Linked DNA regions of Homo sapiens. The protein of the gene in region 1 binds, or shares a complex with, the protein of each later gene. Each region holds a gene or a part of one and is shown on either strand. Other genes may lie near its edges. The genes, in order: VPS41 and VPS39.

The links.
Region 2: VPS41 (region 1) and VPS39 share a complex: the UniProt entries of both Homo sapiens proteins name them as parts of the homotypic fusion and vacuole protein sorting (HOPS) complex.

Annotation. Positions count from the first base shown.
Region 1 is NC_000007.14:38,904,508-38,917,731, reverse strand, and holds the start of VPS41 (vacuolar protein sorting-associated protein 41 homolog), read left to right. Parts: upstream 1-8,540; 5' UTR 8,541-8,557; coding exon 8,558-8,578; intron 8,579-13,224. UniProt on the Homo sapiens protein: Plays a role in vesicle-mediated protein trafficking to lysosomal compartments including the endocytic membrane transport and autophagic pathways. Acts as a component of the HOPS endosomal tethering complex.
Region 2 is NC_000015.10:42,202,649-42,215,205, reverse strand, and holds the start of VPS39 (vam6/Vps39-like protein), read left to right. Parts: upstream 1-6,901; 5' UTR 6,902-7,052; coding exon 7,053-7,125; intron 7,126-12,557. Other genes in the region: TMEM87A (transmembrane protein 87A isoform 4 precursor), read left to right, coding at 3,457-3,498. UniProt on the Homo sapiens protein: Regulator of TGF-beta/activin signaling, inhibiting SMAD3- and activating SMAD2-dependent transcription.

The DNA.
Region 1 (13,224 bases):
ACCTACAATCAACTCTTGGACTCACTGGACACCAGCTGGGTGTTCAACAACTTAACTCAATTCTGATACTAACCACCCGGGGTTAGCACAGACCCTATAGCTTAAGAGCTCAGTCCCACAAAACTGCCCCCTACTTCAAATGTCAGTTGCAAGTCCTGGGCCTCCTGTGCTTCTGGCCAACCAGGTATAAATAGGAGCTTCCTATGAACCCCTTCTAAGGTTCCATAACTTGTTAGAATGACTCACAGAACTCAGGAAGACACTTTACTTACATTTACCAGTTTATTATAAAGGATACAAATGAACATCCAGATGAAGAGGTACACAGGGCAAGGTCTGGAAGGGTACGGAGCACAGCAGCTTCCGTCCCCATGGGGTACTCCATGCTCCCACTGCGTGGACGTGTTCACCAAATTGGAAACTCATCAAATCTCATTTCGAGAGTTTTTATAGAACTTAATCTCCAGTCTTCCCCGCCCCTCCCTGGGGGGCTGAAAGTTCCAGCCCTATAATCAATTGGTCTTTCTGGTGACCAGTCCCATCTTGCTGCTATATAGGAGCCCCACCCTAAGTCATCTCATTAGTATAAACTCAAGTGTGATAAAAAGGGATTCAATAACAAAATATACTCCTATCACTTGGGAAATTCTAAAGGTTTTAAGTGCTCTGTGCCAGGAACCAGAGATAAAGACCAAATATATTGCTTATGATAGCACACATATCTAGAAGGACGATCACTTATGGGAAATTGCATAGAAAAGGGTAACTGGTAGCATTTTCTAACCTCACTATGAGTAAGATACAGTTCCACGTTCTCTGTAATTGTACAGAAACTAACATTTTTGGGCCATACTCTTTCTTTATGTATAAGAGATTTCTGATAATCACTGCACAGTCTCCTTTGAGAGACTGAGTAAAGGGCGACTCTGCACATTCCCCCAAATTTCTTTTCTTCTTTTTATGAAAACAAGTAAGTCTTGAGAGTGGTCCTGTGCCTCTAAATGAGGATCATGAAAAATGGAACCTGAAGAGGAGACTGCAGTGTTCGTTATGTGTATACTGAAGTGCAGGAAACAAAATAGCAGTACAGCAGTGATAAATACAACTAGGCCCCAGCCTTTGGCAAGGAACTTGACCTACATTTTCTCATTTGTTTTTTGCAACAACCCTGATTGGAAGGTACTTTTAGCCCATTTAATAGCTAAGAATACTGGACTTTGGAAAAGTTAACTTGTCCTAGATTTATTATAAATGGCACACACAAAATTTGAATCCTGATCTGATTCTCAAGCTCTTAAATATCACAATGAACTGGAAAAAAAAATGCAAATTGGTACCCTGGCAGTAATGTTCTTGTCCTATGTCCCAAGATTCCAAAACTTTTATAATCTGAAAATTTGTTCTTCTCACACACGAGCGTGTGATTGCTCCCTTTCTCCTGTGTCAGGTGGGCAAGTAGAAGAATAATAATTTCCTCAGGTGCAGTAGGTGATGTCTTTTGGCTGAGTCATTTCTATTCTCAAAACTCCTCAATGGCTCCCTACCACTGTATCAGTTAGTATTAAGTCTGTCTGCTTGTGATAGGCAAGCTACAATAACACAAGGGATTATTATTTTATTCAAAATGAGTTTGGAGGCTGGGCTTAGTGGCTCACGCCTGTAATCTCAGCATTCTGGGAGGCCGAGGTGGGTGGATCACCTGAGCTCAGGAGTTCAAGACCAGCCTGAGCAACATGGTGAAACCCCGTCTCTGCTAAAAATACAAAAATTAGCCAGGCGTGGTGGTGTACACCTGTAGTCCCAGCTACTCGGGAGGCTAAGGCAGGAGAATCACTTGAGCGGGTAGGCGGAGGTTGCAGTGAGCCAAGATCCTGCCACTGGACTCCAGCCCTGGTGACAAGAGTAAAACCCTGTTTGAAAAAAAAACAAAACATTAGTTTGGAGGCAGGCAGTTTAGAGGAGCGTGTTGGCTTCAGTCATCAGGGACCCAGGCTTCTCCTATCTTTCTGCTTCATCCTTAGAATTTGGTTTTCATCCTCAAGGTCACTTGTGGGACCTGTGTGGTTGCTGGAGAATCTAATGGCAGAAATGGTGAAAGGGGTATCCCCAGATGTCTGTTCCCCTTTAATAGACTTCCCTGAAAGGCACACATAACATTTCCACTTGTATGTCATTGACCAGAACTTAATTACATAGCCATGCCTAACTGTGATGGAGACCAGGAAATGTCTTTTATTTAAACATATTGCTGCCCCTAATATTTTAGGAGTTCTTTTACCAATAAAGTAGAAGTGAATGGATATTAGGCAGGCATTTAGCAGTCTCTGCTACAACTGCCTGTGGAATTATACACAAATTTATATTGACAGACTCTAGCACCATCCTACCTAATTGGTCTTGTATCTGACTCTTTGGATGCTATTCCACATCTTTATGTCTCTTCCTTTTTTTTTTTTTTTTTCTGAGACGGAGTCTTGCTCTGTCACCCAGGTTGGAGTGCAGTGGCAGCCATCTTGGCTCATTGCAAGCTCCACCTCCCAGGCTCATGCCATTCTGCCTCAGCCTCCGGAGTAGCTGGGGCTACAGGCACCCGCCACCACGCCCAGCTAATTTTTTGTATTTTTGTAGTAGAGACGGGGTTTCACCGTGTTAGCCACGATGGTCTCCATCTCCTGACCTCGTGATCTGCCCGCCTCGGCCTCCCAAAGTGTTGGGATTACAGGCGTGAGCCACTGCGCCCGGCCTATCTTTATGTCTCTTCTTATACTGTTCCCTTTACCTGGAATATTTTCCCTTTCCTCTTACCATCAGCCTCTTACCTATCCTTTAAGGAACACTTGATGTGCTGCTTGAAGTCATGTCTGATCTTCCCAACTGATTTGATCACTCCCACCTTCAAACTCTCACACAATGGCTGACTTAAACGTCCCAGATACCACTTTCTTTGTGTCATTTCACTGCTCTAAATCTTCAATATCTTTTTATTTGCTCATAGAACAGGTCTGAAACGTACTCAGGTGGCAAGGCACCAAATAGTCTAGTTTGAGAAAGCACCATGAATGGAAAGATGTTCAATTAATTAATTGATTCAGTCAACAAATATTTATAGTGACCCTATTATGCACATACACTGTGCTAGGTGCCTGGTACATGTTTAAAAGTAAGAAGTTGTCAAAGCAAGCTTTATAGTTTCTTTCTGATTTTTTTGGTTGGGATTTATTTACTATTTTTATGTATTTTTATGTCTCAGTGCTTGTTTATAGCTAAGCAATAGCAAAAAATCAAAGATTTCAAGAAAGCATATGTGAAAACCCTAAATAAAATATTTTACCCATTAATCAATTGATTTCTTTCTGTGAATTGGGAAAATAAAGTGACTATTTGATTTTACCAATAAAACCCCTTCGTGCAAATCAAGGCACACTAATTTCACAAGAATCTAGCAAGAGAACCACCACAGTGAGTCTAAACTTTACCTCTTCAAAGTTCCCTCAAATCTATGTATTTCCAAAGATTCTCTCTTAGGTTGTAATACTACACAATACTATACCTCAAGTATCAATTAAAAGTAATGGCAAAAACTGCAATTACTTTTGCACCAACCTAATATATGTTGAAGACCTCAGATTATTTACATCCAGCACCAGACTCCTCCTAGCTTCAAACCAAATAACCAAATATCTACTGAACATTTCTTTTACAAGCCAAATAGGGAAAAGATCAACTTTCCCACAAAAGATGGGTAAAGAGCAAGAGTAGAAAGGACAGAACAAAGTTGAAAATGGCCAGTAAATTTATGAAAAACATCCCCTCATCAGAAATCAAAGACATACAGTTAAAACAAAAATTAAAATATTAATACTATTTTCCCCAAGCTAAATTAATGAAATGTGTAAAAAATGATAATATCTAATGTTTGATGGTAGGAGGGTTTAGAGCTCTCATATATAGCTCACTGTAGAATAAATTGTGAGAGACTGAATATATAAAGGGGCACTGGCCAGACCAGATATTAAAATAGAACTCTGACCCACAGTCTGAAGCAAGCTGCAGCAATTGCCCAGGAAACCAAGCCATTGTCCACAATAGAAAACCCAGGAATCTAGCCTGACAGTCAAAACTGCCATCTCTAGTAACAATCCAGGAACCTTAACTATAACCTCTGAAACAATCAGCCTAAAATGACCAGGACTTTATTGGTAGTTGACAACTTCCTTAATTTTTACTCCCACTTCCAACTAAGAGCAACCAGAGAAAACCAAATATCCACCCCTACCAATCACATAGGTTGCCCCACTTCTGGTTACCCCACCTGCAGCTTTCTCATGCCAGCAGCCTCCAACCAGGGCCTACCTGAAGCCTTCCCTTTTCCTACCTTCCCACTCTTGTGCCTGTGTTTGAGTCTCTGCCACAGCGCAAGTGCTGGTGGCTGACTCCCTTTCTAGAGTAAGCTCTGAATAACTCCTCAATGGCATTTCTCATTTGGATGATCTTTATTCCTGCAGTTGATACCACCTTGCATTATAGCATTTTCCAGAATTATGCACAGGGATGTTAATTAGATGTACTTAAAGTATACAACAAAATAGAATGATTATATACATTACTTTTCATACGATGGAATTATAATGTGAAATCATGTTTTATTAAAATCATGTTTTAGAAGAATATTTTACAAGATTGTTATTGGGAAACAATCTTGAAATATGACTAAGTAAAAAAAAATGACAAAACTTGGTAATATGATCTTTGTTGGACAAGTTTTTAAATAAATACAGAGAGACAGAGAGGGGAAAGGAGGAAGAGAGAGAAAAAAGAGAAGAAAAAAGAAAGGCATATATCCAACAATCATAATCTAAGTGGAGAAATCATGAGTGGTTTTAGAATTTTATTTTATAATTTATTGTATTTTTCCAGTTATCTATTATGAACACATAGTACTTTTGTAATTAGAAAAATGTTATTAAGAAAATCTAATGTGGTTGCTCAGGGAAATTTCCAATAAGCTATATCTTAAAATGACATTTAGAATATTAGAAGGTAACAGGTTTCAGTAGGTACAGTTTTGGAAAAACTAAACTGCAAAATAAGCTGAGGCTGGCCAAATTTGCTAAAGATAACATCAATATTCTTTTAGCTATTTGGTACAGTTAATTAAATAAAGGCTAAGATTGTAGCTTGGAATTAGTAGTGTAATGTGGTGTAAATTTGCTTGTCATTAGCTGTCACACCTGTAGATTGAGAAAGGTAGCAATCTAAGAAGGAATGGAAGCTGAAGATTGGGAAAAGAATCTACAACACATCCCCTAATTAGCAAGGGCATAAGAGTGAATTATTTTAACTTTGTCCACTTTGCCGATTTTTCAAGTTTCCTGAATTTATAAATGCTATTTAATAATGGAAAATATTAAAGCCGTTCATATTGTTTAAGCAATGAAATAATGCTATTGTCACGAATAAAATGGCTATAATTTGAGTTAGTAAACTGTTTCAGACCTACGAAACAAACATATGAGACAGATCCTTGAAACCAGTGAGCCACTCTACAAATATAAGGTCTTAGGTCTGTTTTCTGAAGTCTATTAACAATTTTAGGTCCTATAGACTGAGAATGAGAAGTTGAATCTTACCTTTACCTCCATCTGCATTTTTGTTTTAGTTTTAGTTTTTGTTTTTGTTTTTGTTTTTTGAGACAGAGTCTTGCTCTGTCACCAGGCTGTAGTGTAGTAGTGTGATCTTGGCTCACTGCAACCTCCGCCTCCCGAGTTCAAGCGATTCTCCTGCCTCAGCCTCCCGAGTAGCTGGGATTACAGGCGCACACCACCACGCCTGGCTAATTTTTGTATTTTTAGTAGAGACGGGGTTTCACTATGTTGACCAGGATGGTCTCGATCTCTTGACCTCAGGGGATCCGCCCGCCTTGGCCTCCCAAAGTGCTGGGATTACAGGCGTGAGTCACTGCGCCCAGCCCTTTACCTCCGTATCTTGAAGTTGGGAGAGGGTGGACTGAGCAGGTGATTTGACACAGAATCAGTGACTGTTAGGCTGACTACTCCTCAAACTTGAAAGTATATGCATATGACTGAGGGATACTATTAAAATCCAGATTGTGGTTAAATACATCTCTCAAAGGGCCCCAAATTCTTCATTTTTAACAAGCTCCCAGGTAGTCTTTGGACTACACTTAGAGTAGTTGGAGAATACAAGACCACCTAGATAAGAGAGCCTCAAACTCTCACTTCACATGAGCAAATGGGATTTGGAGGTCACATGTGAATTTCATCCTGTCCACTGTCCCAGCACGAACCTGCTAGTTCATAGTAGGTTTCTTCCTCTAATTCACCTTTCCATACCTGTGTCTCTTCACTTTTCCAGTCTCTCCAAAAGGAAAGAGGCTCATAATACTTTATTGTAATCAAGAGAGTATACTGAATGCGGAACAAACTTGGGGAATTGAGAGTTTCTACGGTTAAATGAGCAGAGGAAAACCTATAAAGTCTGGCTATATCTTTAATAAGACCCATAACACCCTTCTTGAGAAAGAGAATAAACATTCTCATTCCAGAAAAGTAGAAAGGCCAGGAAGGCCCAGAGTGGATGGCCTTCAGCTTTGCTTGCTTGGGCTGCTTGACTTCTCACCAAAATAAAATGGAACCATAAAACAAAAATGACCTTGTGGTTAAGACAGTGGTAATAATCCCTTATTTTCCTTCTTCATCCCAATCTCATCCATTCAGCATAGAAGAGGAGATTGCCCAGTTGGAGAGGCTGTAGTCCTAGAGGTTTATGGGTGGCTGTCACTCATAACAGAAAAGAGAAAATTGGAGTTTGTGAGGAAAGTCAGAAAAGTGGAAGAGCTCATTTTATTTCTCTTTCCCGTGGATACTCGACTGAGGGCTTCCACAGTCTCTTTGGTCTGTATTAAAGTTTTTCTGGGATCTGGAGTTCATCATGAGCAATGTTTGGCCCTGGGCTGCTTTGCAAGAGATTTTAGAAACTCTTGGGTTAGGTTTATACTTGCCCTAGGTTTATACTTAGGGCATTGGGTGCTTGCTTATGGATTTCTTTTTTCTTTTTTCTTTTTTTTCAGATAGGGTCTCACTCTGTTGCCCAGGCTGGAGTGCAGTGGCACCATCAATGCTCACTGCAGCCTTAACCCCCACCTCAGCCTCCTGAGTAGCTGGAACTACAGGCGCACACCATTATGCCCGGCTAATTTTTGGTATTTTTTGTAGAGACAGGGTTTTGCCATGTTGTCCAGGATGGTCTCAAACTCTTGAGCTCATGAAATCTGACTGCCTTGGCCTCCCAAAGTGCTGGGATTACAGGTGAAAGCCACTGCACCTGGCTGCTTATAGACATTTAAATGCCTCAGGGTGGTCTATCCTGTCGGCTGAGTGATTAGCCCACTGGAAGAGGAACCCCAGCAAGGCTTGGAGGAAGAAGATGGAGGTAAGGCTGTTTAGGCCCTGGGGAGAAGACAGGTGTCTCAGAGATGATGTCACCTTGGCTTCTGGGCCATTGAGGAATCATGGGTTGAGCAAGCTACAGACAGAGTACTGAGTCCATGACTTCCTACTGGGTCAGAGTCAATGAGGCACAGGGAGTCAAAAAAGGTACTGAGGCAATCACCACATGCTGCCATTTGCAATGCCCTCTGCTGGTCACCAGCTACTCCAGTGAATGGAAATTGTAAAATGTCTGTCTTTGGACAAGGTGCTGCAGATTCCTGAGGGTTAAGAAACAGAATTCATAATGTTCAGAAACATGGAGAAGGAATCAGTCATTCTGAAGGCTGGAAGTAATACAGTGGTTGTGCAGATTTTGACCAAGGACAACTTCATATTGTGTCTTCACTTGAACATTTACCTATTGAATATCCTCAACAAAAGTTTAACAATTAATTTATTAAACAACAGAGATTTTTTTTAAATCAATGTTCATATGACAGGAGAAGACAAAGTAGCAAGCAAAAATAATGATATTATTTGTTGGCGTATAAATTTTCTCTGACTCTCCACTGCAAAGACTGCTTTATATTCACTGAATATACTTAAAAAAGAGAGAGAAAAAAGGACAAGAACACTTTTAGAGTAAGCAGCATTTGGCAATCACAGAGACTTTGGCATCAGGCAGGGCTGAATTCTATTACTAGTTCTGCCTCTTACTAGCTGCATGACCTCTGAGCTACGGTATTCTCCCCTATAAATGGGGATGATAGTAGGAATTGCTGTGAGGATTAAATGAGATAATTTATGCAAAGCTATAAACCCAGGGCATGACATAGTAAGTGCTTAATAAACACTAGAATAACTAGAGAAACAAGAACAACAATAAAATAAGCTATAGTATTAGCAATGGTTATGTTCACATCCTTCAAAGCAGAATTCCATTGAGTTTGGAGAATTGGCAGCAGAAATGAACCCTAGCAGGTCCGTCCCCTAGAAGAGATTTCCAGGCTCAGATGAAGCTAAAACTACATTTCCCAGAAGGCCCTGGGCCAAGTGTGTGGTTTCCTCTTATTTCCGGGTCTGTCAGGTGACTCTCCCGTGGCGCCATGGCGGAAGCAGAGGAGCAGGTAAAGGGTGCAGGTGGTAGTTGAGGGCACAGGGATATAGAGACTAGGGTGGGCTGTTTGGGGAGGGTGGAGTGGAGTGGGTGGAGGTGCGGAGCTGCTGGAATAGCGCAAGGCAGGTCCGCGGCAGGGCGGGGTGGGATGGCGAAAGTTGGTTTCGGGGAGCAGAGAGGATGCCAGCCCCGGGAGGGCACCTAGGGAAAGCGCTCTGACACACCCCCGCGTTCGGGCTGCCTTTCCTCGGGCCCCATCCCTGTGGCCTTTGCCCAGGGAAATTTTGGCATGAAGGCAGGCCCGGCTACCTCAGGGACTGACTGCCTGTGGGAGGAGGAAGAGAGGCCGGGTGACTGAAATTTAAGTTGCTTTCCACTTGAAGTAGGACAATAAGAACTAGGAGAGAGTAGACGATGAGTTTTGTTTTGTATCTATTGGAGTTAGGTACAGAGCTGGAGCACTGTTGCGGTGCAGCAGGGATTAAATGCATCCGTTCTGGAGCAAAAATGCCTGGGGTCCAAGTGCTGGTTCCTTTTCTTACCCAATGTGCTACTTTGAGCTACTTATTTAACTTTCCAGTGTGAGATGGGGGTAATAATAAGGCCGTCCTCAGAGGGTGGTTTAAGATGGAGAGAGGAGTTTATACACAAAGTTAGAGTACTTAGAACTGTTGGGCTTAGTAAAAATTAAATGGGATTATTTGTTGCTGGTAGTATCCAGTCAACAACTGGCAACGTGGCACTGAAGTTTAGGGTAGAAATTGGTGATGGGAATATGAATTATTTTCATATAGCAGTAGTGGTAATCACACATTTTATGAAATGACGAAGTAAAATAAAAAAGACAAAAAAGAGAAGCAGACCAAAAAAGAGGCTAGAACTTGGGGGAGATAACTTAAGTTTCCATTTCCAGTGTTATTTCAGTTGGATACTGTTTTTCTTCACAAGTTAACAGGGCTGTCAGTTGCAGTCATTGTCTCTAAACAGTGACTTGATGATGGGCTGTTTAGTATCATAAGAGTCATTTACCTAGTTCAATAATTTTTACTATTTTCAACATACTTCATTTGTTTTTACTTCATAGTGAAAATTTGTTCTGTATATATTTTATATATGCCAATAATTGAGACGTTTGACTAGGTAGAAATTTGGTTTGGCTGGTCCTTGTGATAACAAGATAACAAAGTCTCTTATCTAACACTAGAGACTCCTATTTCCATTCTAGCAGTTCAAAGGAAAACACTCATTAAGAACATATCATTTCATGACTGCCATTGCTCCTTTGAATAAGGGTGAGATTGTTTTTCACATTGTGCATCTTTATTTCATGTTGAAATGTTTGTTTTATGGTTTGATTTGAAAGCAAAAAACTGAGTTTCATATGTTCTTAGATATAGTGGAATAGAAATGGAGAGAGTTGCTCCTAGAAAAACCATTGTTTTTTCTTCCATTGAAAAAAACCTATGAAATATTTACCACTGTTTAGTGCAGAAGAAGAATTTAACAAAGTTGTCTGATATAAAAATGACACATACAAAATTAGGGATATAATAATGTTTCACATTTGTACATTATTTTCTAGTTTTAAAAACCCTTCCATATTGCATTTGGTCTTCCCAAAAGAATTCTATGAGGTAAATGTTTACTCTCATACATGGGTGAAACACCTCTGATATTCTAGACTTTCCAGGGGCTTCTAATCTTATTCAGAGGAAAAGCCACAGCCATTACGGTAGCCTGGTTGTCCCACAGGACCTTGACCCAGCTGCCCTTAGCCACCTTTTCTTGACCTCATTTTTCCCACTACTCTCCTTCCCTTCTGTGACTCTGCATCAGCTGTACTGGCTCTCTTAGTCTTCAAAAAGCCAGGCAGGTTCCTATCTCAGGGCCTCTTTGCTCATGCTGTTCCTTTTTGAGGAACCCTGATATTTACAGGCTTCCTCATTTCCTTCATGTCTTTGTCCAAGTGTTCTTTTTCATTGCGACCTTCCCTGACCATGCTTTGAAACCTTCCTGCATTATTTTTCCCTATAATGTGCATCACCGTTTGACATACTGTATTATAAAATTTGTTTTTTTTTTTTTCCCTGTATATTTCTGTGTACCTCTTACCACAGAGCTTGGAACATCCTGACAAGGATTTGTTCACTGCTGTATGTCCAATACCTAGAATATTGCTTGTTACTTAATAAATTTGTGTTAAATGATTGACTTTTACTGATAAACAAATTGAAATTCAGGCAACTTGAGTAACGTGCTCAGGCTTATATCTATAATATAATAAATCTCCAGTCCTCTGTCTCCATAGCTCATGACTTTTCACTAGAATACCCTACCTTTTTAAAATATATGTAAGAACCTAAATCTAAATAGTTTTTTTACTTTATGAAGTAGAATTAGCCCTTTCCATTTTAATGATTTTCCCTCAAGCCACCATTCCACTTTGATGCTTTAACAGCCAATATGTAGTTGGAGTGGGCATTCTCCTCTCCAGTGGTGTCAGTATCTTAAAAAGACTAGTCGTGGACCAGGCACAATGGCCCATACCTGTAATCCCAGCACTTTGGGAGGCCAAGGTGGGGCGATTGTTTGAGCCCAGGAGTTCGAGACGAGCCTGGGCAACATAGCAAAACCCTATCTCTACAAAAATTACAAAAATTAGCCAGGCATGGTGGTGTGTAGTCCCAGCTACTCGGGAGGCTGAGGTGGGAGGATTGCTTGAGTCAAGAGGGTCGGGGCAGCAGTGAGCCATGATCGTGCCACTGCACTTCAGTCTGGGCAACAGAGCAAGACCCTGTTTAAAAAAAAAACGAAAAACAAACAAAAAAAAACCCAGCAGTCTGTTGTAAATGGCTGAAAGACACATTCACAAATTGTTCAGTTCTTTTTTTTAAAAGAAAGTAAGTAATTGTACCTAATCTTATCCTTTATAGATTAAAAATGGTTAGGCTTTTCTCTGATTTGTTTTTGCATTTCACAGTAGGAAGCCATTGAAATCTGATGACGGTAGTAGGGCTTTATTATACCATTTTTTTAAAGCTAAAAGTGTATAAAAATGGAGAAAATAGGGCTGCGTGCGGTGGCTCATGCCTGTAATCCCAGCACTTCGGGAGGCTGAGGCGGGTGGATCACCTGAGGTCAGGAGTTCGAGACCAGACGGGCCAACATGGTGAAACCCCGTCACTACTAAAAATACAAAAAAATTAGTCAGGCATGGTGGTGGGCGCCTGTAATCCCAGCTACTCGGGAGGCTGAGGCAGGAGAATCACTTGAACCCAGGAGGCAGAGGTTGCAGTGAGCCGAGATTGTGCCATTGCACTCCAGCCTGGGTGACAAGAGGGAGACTCCATCTCAAAAACAAACAACAACAACAAAAAAACCCCCAAAAATGGAGAAAATAACTGTTCTATTGAACTTTTTAGAAAACTTGGCATACATTTTTTTCTTGGTATCATGTATCATAAATGCCAGTAATCTCCAGGATTAGCAACACAAAACTAAATGTCTCCACATTATCTTTCGTGAGTGTTGTTTCTTTGGTGATTGCTCCCCTCCCCATTTATTTTCAGAAGAACCAAAATAGTGACATCTGCACTGAGTTATTGTGGTATAAAACAGCTCAGAGGATCTGAAACTAAAACCACTTTTTAGGTATGAATGAAAATTTTTTTATAAGTCACTGGGAAATTCTTGCTTTTGCCTAATATGGTAAAGGTAGTTGTCAAAAGTAACTACATATATATTTTATAGTTTACAGAAAAAATGAATACCCTGCATTCTGCCTGGAAATCTTCTAACCAGCAGTTTTGCTTAGCTCCAAAACGATTTATAGTTGACCTTCATATTCACAGATGCCCAACAGTATTTGTCCATATCTTTCTTATGAATAACATTCTGCTTGAAGTCTGGTTGTTTGTGTATTTGTCTTATCTCTCCTAGAGATTGCTGAGTCCTCAAGAATAAGAACAAGAACTTACTCATGTCTGTATCTTCCACAGGGCTAGTGCTTTATAGGTACTAAGTGTTTAGTAAAGTGTTTAAATGAATTTATTAGGGGGAAAATAGCATTTCAAATTGTCAAATTGTATATTAGTAGGATTTGCGTGAAATTATTTTATCTTACTTGCACCTTTTTTAAGTTATTAATTCAGATGTAATGTGGATTACATCTATACTATAATGTAGGTTACATTCTATACTTTCTTTACTCTTGCCTGCTCCCCAGGTACCCTTTGATCTTCCTAATCAACCAACCTGGACCCTGGTCCATTAAAGTATTTCCACGATTAGACCATCTATTTCTTAATCAAGTAGGAGAGTTTCTACTTTGAATTCTCCTTCTGCATTTTAGAAATTAGGGGAATTCTGTCCTTATTGTAGATCACTTATGGATTATTAGATGTCATATTTGTCATGTATATCCCCATGTGATTATGTTACAATAAAAATCAAATCAATACAAATTTGAGTGCTTCGATTTTCTTGCCTGTAACTGGGAATTTTACTCTCTAAAACTTTTGTGAGTATGAAGTATGTTAAAACTTTTGTGAATATAAAGTATGTTAAAGTGGCTAGGTTGAAATGGTTGTATAAATAAGACAGAGGTTAATCATCGAAACCTGGACTTGGCTTACGTATGCACAATTCTCTTTTCTT
Region 2 (12,557 bases), on another chromosome or scaffold:
TTACTGTACCTTTTCAATGTTTAGATAACTTTAGATACCCAAATACTTACCATTGTATTCCAGTTGCCTTTGGTATTCAGTACAGTAACATGCTGTACAGGTTTTTAGCCTAGAGCAATAGGCTTATACATATAGCCGAGGTATGTAGTAGGCTATATAACATCTAGATTTGTGTAAGTATATTCTGTGAAGTTCACACAGCTATGAAATTGCCTAATGATGCAGTTCTCAGAATGTATCCCTATCATTAAGTATACGTGACTGTATGTAGTATGCAAATATTTTCTCCAATTCTGTAGGTTGCTTTTCATTCTGTTGTGTGCTTCCCTTGCTGTGCAGAAGCTTTTTAGTTTGATGTAGTCCCATTGGTCTGTTTTGCTCTTGTTTTGTGCTTTTGGTGTCTTAGACAAGAAATCACTGCTAAGACCAATTTCAAGAAACTTAGGTTGTCTTCTAGGAGTTTTGTGGTTTCAAATCTTATGTCTAATTCTTTAATCTATTTTGACTTGTCTAAGTCTTTAATCTATTTTGAGTTGATTTTTGTGTATAGTGAAGATGAGTTACTTTCATTCTTTCTCATGTGAATATCTAGTTTTTCCAGCACCATTTGTTGAGGAAACTGTCAGTTTCCCCACTGTGTAGTGTTGTCTCTCTTTTCGAAGATCAGTTGACCATGTATGTGTAGTTTTATTTCTGGGCTTTCTATTTTGTTCCACTTGGTCATAGTATGTGATTCTTTCAACGTGCCGTTAAATTCTGTTTTCCATTGTTTCATTGAAGATTTTTGCGTCTGCTCATCAGGGATATTGGCCTGTCGTTTCTCTTCTTGTCATGTCTTTGGCTTTGGCATTAGGGTAATGCTGGCCTCATAGAATAAGTTTGGAAGTTCCTTCCAAATAAATGTTTTCGTCTTTAATTTTTTTGAAAGCGTTTAAGAAGGATTAGTGTTACTTTGTCTTTAAGTACCTGGTAGGACTCAACTAAAGAAGCCATCTGGTCCTGGGCTGTTTTTTTGTTGGGATGTTTTTGATTACTGATGGAATCTTGTTGTAGGTCTTACCAGGTTGTGTGTTCCCCCCCCGGATTTTCTATTCCTTGATGATTCAGTCTTGGTAGATTGTATACTTCTAGGAATTATATATTTTGTTCTAGGTTATCCAGTTTCTTGGCATATTTTTAAAAATGTTTTGTATATTTTTATTGAAATTCTTACTTTGTTCATGCATTGTTCTCCTGAGTTCGTTGAACATCTTCATGATAGTTGTTTTGCATTCTCTTTCAAATAATTCCTATACCTCTGTTTCACTGGGGTTGGTTTCCAGAGATTTATCTTCTTCCTTTGTTTGGGCCATGTTTCACTGATTCTCTATTTTCCTTAATTCTTTGTGTTGGTTTCATTGCATTAGAAAAAAAAACAGTTACCTTTCCAGTGTTCATGGACTGGCATTGTACAGGAGAACACCCTCATCAATCATTCTGATAGCCTCTCTAACCCACTCTGTATTATGTCTTTTCTGGACTTCTGCATATGTATTCCCAATCAGAGGGATTTGCTGGGTTTTTCCCTCCCCAGGAATTTATAATCTCTTGCTCCCTTTTGTGTTTATCTGCTGTATCATGGGTCTCCTGGAGCCAGTGGCATAGCCCAGCTCTTTTTTTGTTCATACTGGCCCCAGGCACCTAAAATATACTGGTCCCATCTGTGCTTCAAACCATTCCCTACAGAAACCATTCCCTCAGGTAACCTCTTACAAAGTTGGAACATTTTCACAGTCCATCTCTCCTCCCTAGGGAAAAGCTAGGATTTGGGGATGTTGGGGATTCTACCTGCTTACTCTGCACTGAGCTGGGGGAGCGGCTGTAGTGAGCTCATGCTTGCTAGTCCAAACTTCCACTTTGATTTCAGCAACTTCCAACCTGGGCCCTTTGTTTTTAGCTCTCGGACTCAGGCAAGACAGAAAACAGTCTCTCGTGCAGGTTCCAGAAAAGTCAGAATGTTGGATGTACATTCCAGTCATTTCCTTCCCTCTGCAAAAAGAAGCTGGGAGCTGAGGGTTTCCTCTCTATCATGTGGTACTGTGCTGGGTCCATGGGAAGGGAAGAATTATGGCAAGAGGGTGCCTCAGGTTTTTCTGCCGACTTTGATTCAGCTGGTTTCATGCTTTCCTATAGTGCAGAAGACCCTCAACTGGTTTCTGGATTTCCCACAAAGGGAATTTTTCCATGTGTTATTGAATCAGTGTGTCTGTAGAGGGAAGGAGTGTCCAGGGCTTCCTATTCTGTCATCTTGCTGACATCACTTTCTCCAAGGCCTTTTTTTCCCTTAAAACTGAAAAAGACCTTAAATGAATTACAGGAGAAACAATTTACATGATGGACCAGGAATCAAAATGGCATAAGGCTCTTCAACAACATCTTTGGGAGCCAGAACAAAGCCTTTGAATTCTGAGGAAAATCATTTTCAACCTAGAATTCTGTACTCAACTAAACTATCATTATGAGGGTAAAATAAAGATGTTTCTAGTCACACAAGAAGTAAAATAATTGATGTTCTATATGCAGTTTCTGAAGAAAGTAGGGGAAAATGTTCTCCACAAAAATGAGGAAGCTAGGAAAAAGACTTGGGATCTAGGAAATAAAGGGTCCAACACAGAGACAAGAAAAATTCCCAGTATGATGTAAGAAATTCTCAGGTTGGCAGCTGGGCACCAGGCTTGGATGGAGTGGAGAACAGAGAGCATCGGAAAGGATATTTTTAAGAAAAAGGGAAACATCTATAGATTATCTGATGTGATTGATTATATTCAAAAAGGATTTGTAGTTCTGTCAGTTTGTGATACAATAGTGAGAGGTACTTCGCAAATGAAGCAAAAGAAAAATGAAAATTAACTCTAAGGTATAAAATTGCCTAAGAAGGGAAATTTAAGGGTAGTACATTAATTATTTTAATTGAAATGGGATACTGTAAATACTATATTAAATTAAATGTAATTTTATTTTTTACATGATTTTTAAAAAGTGTAGTAAAAAACACATAACAAATCAACCCTCCTAACCATTCTAAAGTGCAAAGTGCTAACTAGGTGCACGTCTTTGCCCTCATCCTTCACTGGGTCTTCAAGTGAAATTCCTGAATTAGAGGAGTTACACATTTTTATTAAAGCCTAATCTTATGTAAATATTTGTTTACATAAGATCTTAGCTGACTCTATACATTTCCTTCTGAGTGCTGATTTTCTGTCCAGAAGCCTAGAGCTTTTGATTTAGTTGTTCTTGGGTGAGGTCTGGACATCTGTATGTTCAAAATCTTCACAAATGTTTAGGAACCATTTCTCTAAACATTTAATTAACATAAAGTACTCGTGGAAGATGTTTGCTTGGATAGTCTGTATAGAAGATATTTGGAATATAGATCATTTTAACCTAATATACTTCAACCTTTTTTTTTTTCCCTAGGAACGAATGATCACACACTTTGAAAGGTCCAAAATGGAGTAAGGAATGGGAAGATTTGCAGTTAAAGATGGCTACCATCAGGGAAGAGATCAGCATCTGTGTCAGTCTTCTGTACGGCTCCATGGGATTAAAGGAAGCAATGACATCCTGATCTGTTCCTTGATCTTTGGGCATTGGAGTTGGCGAGAGGTGTCAGAACAAAGAGAACATCTTACTGAAAACAAGTTCATAAGATGAGAAAAATCTACGAGCTTCTTATTTACAACACTGCTGCCCCCTTTCCTCCCAGACTCTGACATGGATGTTCATGCAACTTAAGTGTGTTGTTCCTGAACTTTCTGTAATGTTTCATTTTTTAAATCTGACAAACTAAAAAGTTTAACGTCTTCTAAAAGATTGTCATCAACACCATAATATGTAATCTCCAGGAGCAACTGCCTGTAATTTTTATTTATTTAGGGAGTTACATAGGTGATGGGGGAAATTGTTAACTACCTTTCATTTTCCTGGGAAGTCAAGGTTACATCTTGCAGAGGTTGTTTTGAGAAAAAAGGGCCCTTCTGAGTTAAGGAGCCATAGTTCTATCAATGATCAAAAGAAAAAAAAAAAAAGAGAAACTGTTACAGTATGATTCAGATCATTTAAAAAAGCAAAATCAAGTGCAATTTTGTTTACAAATGGTGTATATTAAAGATTTTTCTATTTCAGATGTACTTTAAAGAGAAATATTAGCTTAACTCTTTTGACATCTGCTATTGTGACACATCCCATTGCTGGCAATGTGGTGCACACTCCGAAACTTTTAACTACTGTTTTGTAAGCCTCCAAGGGTGGCATTGCAGGGTCCTTAGGCAATGTTTTGTTTGCCTTTATGCAGAGAGGTGCTCCAAGTGCTGTGATTGAGCACCGTGCTAGAGGAACTGTAATGCTTCAGAAGTTGTAGCTTATACAAAGGAAACAGGTCCTGCTGGCTTAATTTAAACAGTTATTGCATGAAGTAGCGTGGAGGCCCTGGACTGCTGCTCGTTCTTTAGGATGGACTGTTCTGGTATCTGGTATTGGTTTAGAGACTGTTAATAAGGGACATCACAAGGTGATGGGATTCATTTGAAGCACTCTATTTCTGTTTTAATGGTTTTATCCAATTTTGCCTTCCCAAGATTTTTGTTCTACATAAAAAGTTCATGCCACTTTTTAATATAAAAAAATTTAACAAAATTAATGTATTTTTCTCATTTTTTTCAAACTTTTTCTAAAGACTCTTTCTGTCAAACTCATGAAAAATTTCTTTCTATGGCTTTTATTCTAGATTGTCTTATTTTCTGTTAAAACCAATGACCACATGACCACAATCTTCACTAACTCATACTGCAGTGAAAGTGTTAACCCTTAGGTAGTTTCTCTACAACTCTTTGCTATGGTGATTTTTAAAAAAGTTTCCTAGGAAGTATCTCTGAGGAACAGCAATCTGAAGAACTGACTATATTCTCATGCTAAGTCATTAGCCAAAAGCTGGTGGTATTGTTGCATGCTGCTATTGCATATTAAAACGTAGCAGATGAATAATAGTTGTAATGCAGCAGGATAGTTGGTCAAATTATTTTTTTAGGCTGCTTTGATGTTGACTTGAGACTAGGAAAAAAAAAAGCCCATTGTGTTAAGCGGGAGTGTATAGTTCAAGTTCTATAGCCTGGGCCCTGATAATTCTACTTACAGCTTTCTGTATTACTGGGAATAGATATAGTGTGTCATTTCTTAGGTTCAGAAGAAATTGATAGCTTTGCAGTAATCTGTAAAACAATATAAACCTTAGGGTTTTGGGCCTGAACGAAAAGGTACTAGACCTTCCAGCACAACAGCTGGTAATTCTAAATTTTTAAGAAGGTGATCAGCTTCTATGGTGAAAATCAGCTATAACACAGGATTTGTGTAGCAATTTTCATGTTTTTGACTACTTGAAAGTACTTTTCACTTGATTATCAGAACAGCATTTGGTAAAGATGGGACAAGTATTCCTAATTTACATATGAAGAAACTGATATTGTGTAAAAATAAAATGACCAGGACCAGTTTTTTTGACTTCATATCACAGACTTACCCTTTTTCTTTTACATTTTTGCTTTAAACCCAAATGCTTAATTTTTTGACCTACGATGTTTTCCTAGGGGGAAATGACCAGATATAGATCATTCTTGCAGCCCAAACTTTGTTGTTTTTTAAGTCTTCAAGGGGAATACTAAGGTAACCGCAGACAGTACAGGTCCCAGGTCCTATAGGAGGAAAAGCCATGACACCTTCCTAAAGGAATATTAGGATGTAAGACACAGCTTTGGAAAGTTGAATTGGTAGGAATGTGGTCATCAAATTAAAAGGAGGCTTATTTCACTGACTTCCAAGAGTTAGTGAATCATCTCTTGCCTAAACTCTTGCTACTCAAAATGTGATCCAGGGACCAGCAACATCTGGGAGATTTTTGGTGCTCAACTGAGGGTCTTACTCTGGTCCTACTGAATCAAAAGAGGCATTTTAACAATGTCTCTAGGTGATTTGTATGCACGTTAAATTTGAAAAGCATTGGCCTCAAATGGTGGTTCTCAGGGTAATTTTGCCTCCCAGAGGACATACGGAAAAGAGACATTTTTATACCTCTGTGGGGAAGATAACTGGCATTTGGTGGGTGGAAGTTAGGGATGCTGTTAAACATCTTACATTGTACAGAACATGCCCCCTCCCCCAACAAGAAATTATCCTGTCCTAAATGCCGGTAGTGCTATCGCTGAACAACCCTAACCTAAAATGGTGGTTCTCAAGCTTTTAAGTGCATGGACTCACCTTGGGGTTTATTAAAACATAGGTTGCTGTTCCCTTCGAGTTTCAGATTCAGTAGAACTGGAATGGGCCTGAAACTTTGCATTTCTAACAAGTTCACAGGTGCTGCTGCTACTGCTGTTGTTGCTGGTCTAGAACCACTTTCAGAACCACTGGCCTAGAACAACCATGAAAGCATTAAGGTAAGGTGCTTGTACTAATTGGGATATAATGGTAATACTAAAGCTACCACTTACTGAGAGCTTAGTGGGTGTCAGGTGTTGCTAAGCGCTCACGACACTAGGTCACAGGTATTTACAAAAATTTTGCAGATTAGGAAAGTATGGCATCGAAATATTAAATTTTCTAAATCACAGCTAATTTCCTAATTGGTAGATCTCCGTCTGAGGTCGACGCCAAAGGCCGAGTTTTTAACCATCACGCCCACTGCCTAAAGCAGTTCTAAGATTAAGAGTTTGTTCCTTCTATGGTAAGCCCATGGCTACTCGGGATGGAGTAGCTATGGGTCCAGAGTGACGATGGCAACTCAGCAACAAAACAATTCATTTAGAGTGCACCGGGAGGAAGGGGCGGGACTTCGGCTGCGGAAGAGGCGGGCCTAACTAGCAGGAAGTCCGGGGTTGACGATGGCTGTGTTGTTGAAGGGCCTGTAGCCGGGGGGTTCCTGGCCGGATCCCGGTCTACCCTTAGCCCAGACTCGTTCCGGACCCCAGCCCGGCCCGGAACACTCTGGGCGAGACGGCGGTGGCAACTCTCCCCTTGCCGCCATGCACGACGCTTTCGAGCCAGTGCCGATCCTAGAAAAGCTGCCTCTGCAAATCGACTGTCTGGCTGCCTGGGGTGAGCCGAGGGGCCGCGGGGCCGAGGCGGAGTCAGCACAGGAGCGGTCCGGATCTTTTCTGAGGCCGGGGAAGTGGACAGGCGTCCATCCGTGTGGGCTTCGGTTGGATGCTACACGAGAGGGGCTTAGGATGAGAGAAGGCAGAGAGATGACCACCGGCTATAGACATCGATGTCTGTGGGGCTACTTGGGTGATCCCAGTGATCCAGTCATTTAGGGGAGTTCCCCTTGCTTTTGCTCTCTGTGCAGAGTGGGAGGATGAGCTTTCCTTTTTAGTTGTGCTCAGCTTTGGCCCATTTTGATTCCCACGAAGACTTCATTTTAGAGGGTCAAAGCAGTAAGAAGTTCTCAGCCTGCCAGGGGCTTGAAGTTGTCCAGATGTTTGTGTTGTTTTCTAGATGAAAGTCAACCCTGGTTTTGGGGGCATTGAACAAGTTAACACCATATGCTTTTTTTTCCCCTTAGTGATCATTCGTTCATTTCTCATTCCTGTAGGGAACTCATGTAGTTAGCTAACCTTTGAATCTAGCCAAGCGGTTGATTACCTTATATCCAAAGTGTCCAAGTTACCTAACTGTAGGCGGAAGAGTTTCCAGACTGTCTTGAAACCTAACCCATAAAAACTAGCATAGTCCTTTTGGGATTGACTAGTGCAGAAGGCCGGGACAGACATCTCTTGTGTGCTCTGAAATACAAATGAAGGTTTCAGGGATAACGGTGAACATTGTGCTCTTATCCGTGAGTGACTGGTTTGATACCAGCCGCCAAAGACCAAGGAAATCATTTCTAACTTTCCTCTTAATGTTTAGGTCCTAGAAATCAAGGACCATAAAAAGATGATTCAGATCCCTTAATCAGATCTTATACTGAGCTAGATAGGTAACCATGATGGGCCTTATGGAATCTTGGTGGTGTCTGATACCATGTGCGTCAGCTGTTCACAGTGTCACCGAGTCATCCTTGCAGAGTTCTTGATGACTTCTTCTGTAGGGTTCTTTCACGAAGAATTTTCATGTTAATGTGCACCCTTCCTCCTTTAGCAGCTCTGGGTCTCTTTAAAATCATACCTCCACAGTAAGCAGTTCTAGTCCTTTGGGTTAAGAGGAGAATCCTACTTCCTCCAGACATCTCAAGAAAACCAATTTCTGTCATTAAATGCTCTCATTAAACATTTAAATAGAGGAGGAGAAAAAGTTTTTAAATGAAAGACCTGACACTGCATGAAAGGATTAATTCCCCCATTGCTTCATCAGATATACTTATTAGGTGGCTACACGGGCCATTCTCTTTGCTTGGGACAGTAATACAATGATGAATAAGAAACAGTGCCTGTGCTCCTAGGACACACACTGGGGGACAAATACACGTGAACAGATTATAATACTAGAGACATATGCTGCCTATTATTGCAACATGGATGAGGGGGTACCCAACTCAGCTAAGGACATATGTTTCTGAAAGGGATTAATGCAGCTGTGGCTACACTTGACTTAGCTCGTCAGAATCCTTGACTCTGATCTCCTGTTGGACCATTAGCACATAGTGCTCCTAGACTCTCACCAACTCCACTTTGTCACAGTAAAGATTCCTTGCACCTGTGGTTTTCAGGAACACAGTTTTGAAACAATAGGTAGCTTTTGGCCTTCCTTGATCACCCACCGAACAGGAGAAATGCTCTTTGGTTCCTAAGGTGCTTAGGTACATATTAGGTTACAAGAGGCCATTAACTGCCTCCTGCTTCAAAAGTGCTTTATTTCCAGATTTGAGCAGCAGTAATTATTGCTCTTTCTAGTCATTACCCCTTTTTAACTACATTGTGCCTTTGGATGGAAAGTTCGTCCAGGAACTTCCAGAGGCAGGTCACACAGGGCCAAATAGTATTTGAGGTGTAAATGTCTTAGAGACAACATACTCTGTCTCCTGGGAAATAGAAATCAGGAGAGAACATGATGAGGATGATTTCTTTCTAAACTCCAAAGTTGTATAATCCTGCTGCCTTTTCAGCATCTTCATTTGGATGTCCAGTAGCATAGCCAAAACCGTTCTTGATTCCTCTCCCCTCAAACATGCCTGTCCTCCTGTATCTTACGTCTCAGCAAGTGGCATTTCTATTTACCTCTTTGACTAAAGCCAAAAGCTTTGGAATCGTTCTTGACTTCTTTCATTCTGTTTTACACTGTATCCCATCTATCAGCAAATCTTGTGTGTTCTACCCCTAGAATAAATCTGAAATCCAGTCATTTCTCTCTATCTTGATGATTACTACTCTTGAAGGCACCATCATCTGTCACCTGAATTACTGTAGTAGTCTTCTCATTGATCACCCTATATTTGCCAGTGTGCCATTTTCAGTTTTTTGTCTACCAGGTAGAGTGAAACTTTGAAAACCTAAATCTGATTCCATCCTCTACTCAAAACCCTCTCATGGTATCACATCACAACTAGAATAAGTTCCAAAGTTTTCACCCTGTCTGGCAACATCTGACATGATCAGGCCCTGATTTCTTCCCTGTCTTCTGTGTACTTACCTCTCACTCCTTTCTGGTACCAGTCCCACACAGCCTTCTTTGTTCCATCAATGCACAAAGCACATACCCACCTCAGGGCCTTTACATTTGCTGTTTCCTTGGCCTGGCACTCACTTGCCTTTGTATATATGGTTCATTCCTCATTTCACTCAGTTCTCTGCTGAAATGTCACCCAAATCAGCAAAACCTTCCCTGTGTATCCTATATAAAAGAGATTGCCACATCCACCAATGTGCTGTTTTCTTAGCCTTATCTTCTAATCATGGGTCACCATCTACTGTTATTTTATATATTTAATTATTATTGCCTCTCTCACTCCACATTAGAATATAAGTTCCCTCAGGGCAGTATCTTTGTTTTCTGCATTGCTATATCTGCAGTACCTAAAACATTTCCTGACTCAATGGGTATTCATTAAATATATATTTAATGAATAATGTTAATATGAATAGTAATAGCTTGCAGTTGTTAAATGCTAATCTGTATTAGGCTTTTATAAAATAAGACTCCATTTTACAGAAGAAAGACCTAAGGCTTAGAAAATTTAAGAAATTTTTCCAAGGTCACATGTCCTGTAAATCATGTCTGCTTCTAGAGCCTGGTTCTCAAACTTGAATGTATATTCAAAGCCTGTAAAAAATGCAGACTTCACATGTATATATGAGTATCTGTATGTCTATATATACATACATACCTATATTTTCCAGAGAAACAATGGAAAGATAAGTCAAAAATTACTAAAATGATGCCCATAGCAGAAGGGAGAAGAGAGGATAAAATGGACAATGATAGAAACTAGACTTTTCGTCGTTTTAGCTTTGGAACTACATGAATGTTTCATAAAAACAAATAAAATTTAATTTAATTTTATTTTATTTTATTTTATTTCATTATTATTTTTTGAGACTGAGTCTCGCTCTGTCGCCCAGGCTGAAGTGCAGTGGTGCAATCTCAGCTCACTGCAACCTCTGCCTCCCAGGTACAAGCCACTGTCGTGCCTCAGCCTCCCGAGTAGTTAGGATTACTGCCACCCACCACCATACCTGGCTTATTTTTGTAGTTTTAGTAGAGACGGGGTTTCGTCATGTTGGCCAGGCTGGTCTCAAACGCCTGACCTGAGGTGATCCGCCCACCTCGGCCTCCCAAAGTGCTGGGATTACAGGCGTGAGCCACTTTGCCCAGCCAACAAGATTAAATTTTAAAATGTAAATTTCAGGGTACCACTTCAAAGCCATTGAATCTGAATCTCCATGTGCAGGGCCCAGGAATGTGCATTTTTAATAAGTCCAGGTGATTCTAATGCAGCTAATTGGGGGCTTATGCCCAGATGAGAAGTACTGTTATTTGCCATGTTACCCAACGAAGGGAAGTGACTACTATCTTACTTATCTTTGTGGTCCCTGCAGTGGCCAGCATTGGGCCAGAAATGGAATTTATTACATGAAGTTGGACTGCATTGCACTGTTGGAAGGAGCTCCATTAGGGTAATTATGAGCAATAGGGCCTAGCCCTCCTTCTCAGGAGGAATTAAGTCCAACCTTGTGGCTCAGGGTTAGGCCGTCAGGAGTTTTTTAGGGCTGATACTGCTTTGCTTATGTGTGCGTTTTGTGTTTGCTTAGTATGTCTCACTTTCTGTTGTGTGTTACTGTATTGAGTCTCAGAAGGCACTGTCCATCCCATGCTGCGCGTGCTCTGCAGGCTTGTCATCCTCTGTGTTGTGCATGCACAGCTTTGTTAAATAACGTGTCCTAGAGAGTGGAGGACCCAACATGGGACAGGTCCTCTGGCTAATGGCACATGTAATCAATCAGGTTGATTTAAAAGTTTACAGAGAATTTAATCCATCGGATTGATTCCCTTTTATGACCAGTAGAATAGACATTTTATTTTTTTAATTAATTTTTTTTTTGGAGGCAGAATTTCACACTTGTCACCCAGGCTGGAGTGCAATGGCGCACAATCTCCACTCACTGCAACCTCCGCCGCCAGTGTTCAAGTGGTTCTCCTGTCTCAGCCTCCCTAGTACCTGGGATTACAGGTGCTCACCAGCACACCTGGCTAATTTTTTTTTTTTTTTTGAGACAGAGTCCTGCCCCGTCACCCAGGCTGGAGTGCAGTGGTACGATCTCAGCTCACTGCAGCCTCTCCCTCCGGGGTTCATGCAGTTCTCTTGCCTCAGTCTCCTGAGTAGCTGGGATTACAGGCACACACACCACCATGCCTGGCTAATTTTTTTTGTATTTTTAGTAGAGATGGGTTTCCACTGTGTTGGCCAGACTGGTCTTGAACTCCTGACCTCAGGTGATCTGCCCGCCTTGGCCTTCCAAAGTGCTGGGATTACAGGCATGAGCCAACCACACTCGGCCTAATTTTTATATTTTTTAGTAGAGACGGGGTTTCACCATGTTGGCCAGGCTAGTCTCAAACTCCTGACCTCCAGTGATTCGCCCACTTCGGCCTCCGTGCCCGGCCCCTAGACATTTGACTTTTTAAAATGTTTTGTCATGTCTTAGTTTGGGTTCACAAGAAAAAAAAAAAGTAAATTAAAAAATCTATTGGCAAGAAACATTTCAATAAAAATGGAAAATAGACTCTTGAATGTCATGTTTAGGAATTTGACTTCATATTTTGGTAGTGTAGCTTCACAGGATTTTTTAAGCCCCAGTGTGACAGCATCAGAGATCTGCTCTAAGATAACTGACAGCAAATGCGAGAGAATGCATGGAGTGAATGAGACCAGTTGAAGGTGTCACAGGGGTCCCCAGAGAGACTCTATAGGAGGAGGCTGTCATGAGGTACCATTACAGGTAGAATTGATAGACCCTGGCCGACTTGGGAGGAAGCTGAGGCTATTAAAAAAGATAAAGAAAAGCAGGAACTGGCAGGGATTTGGGGGACAGAGT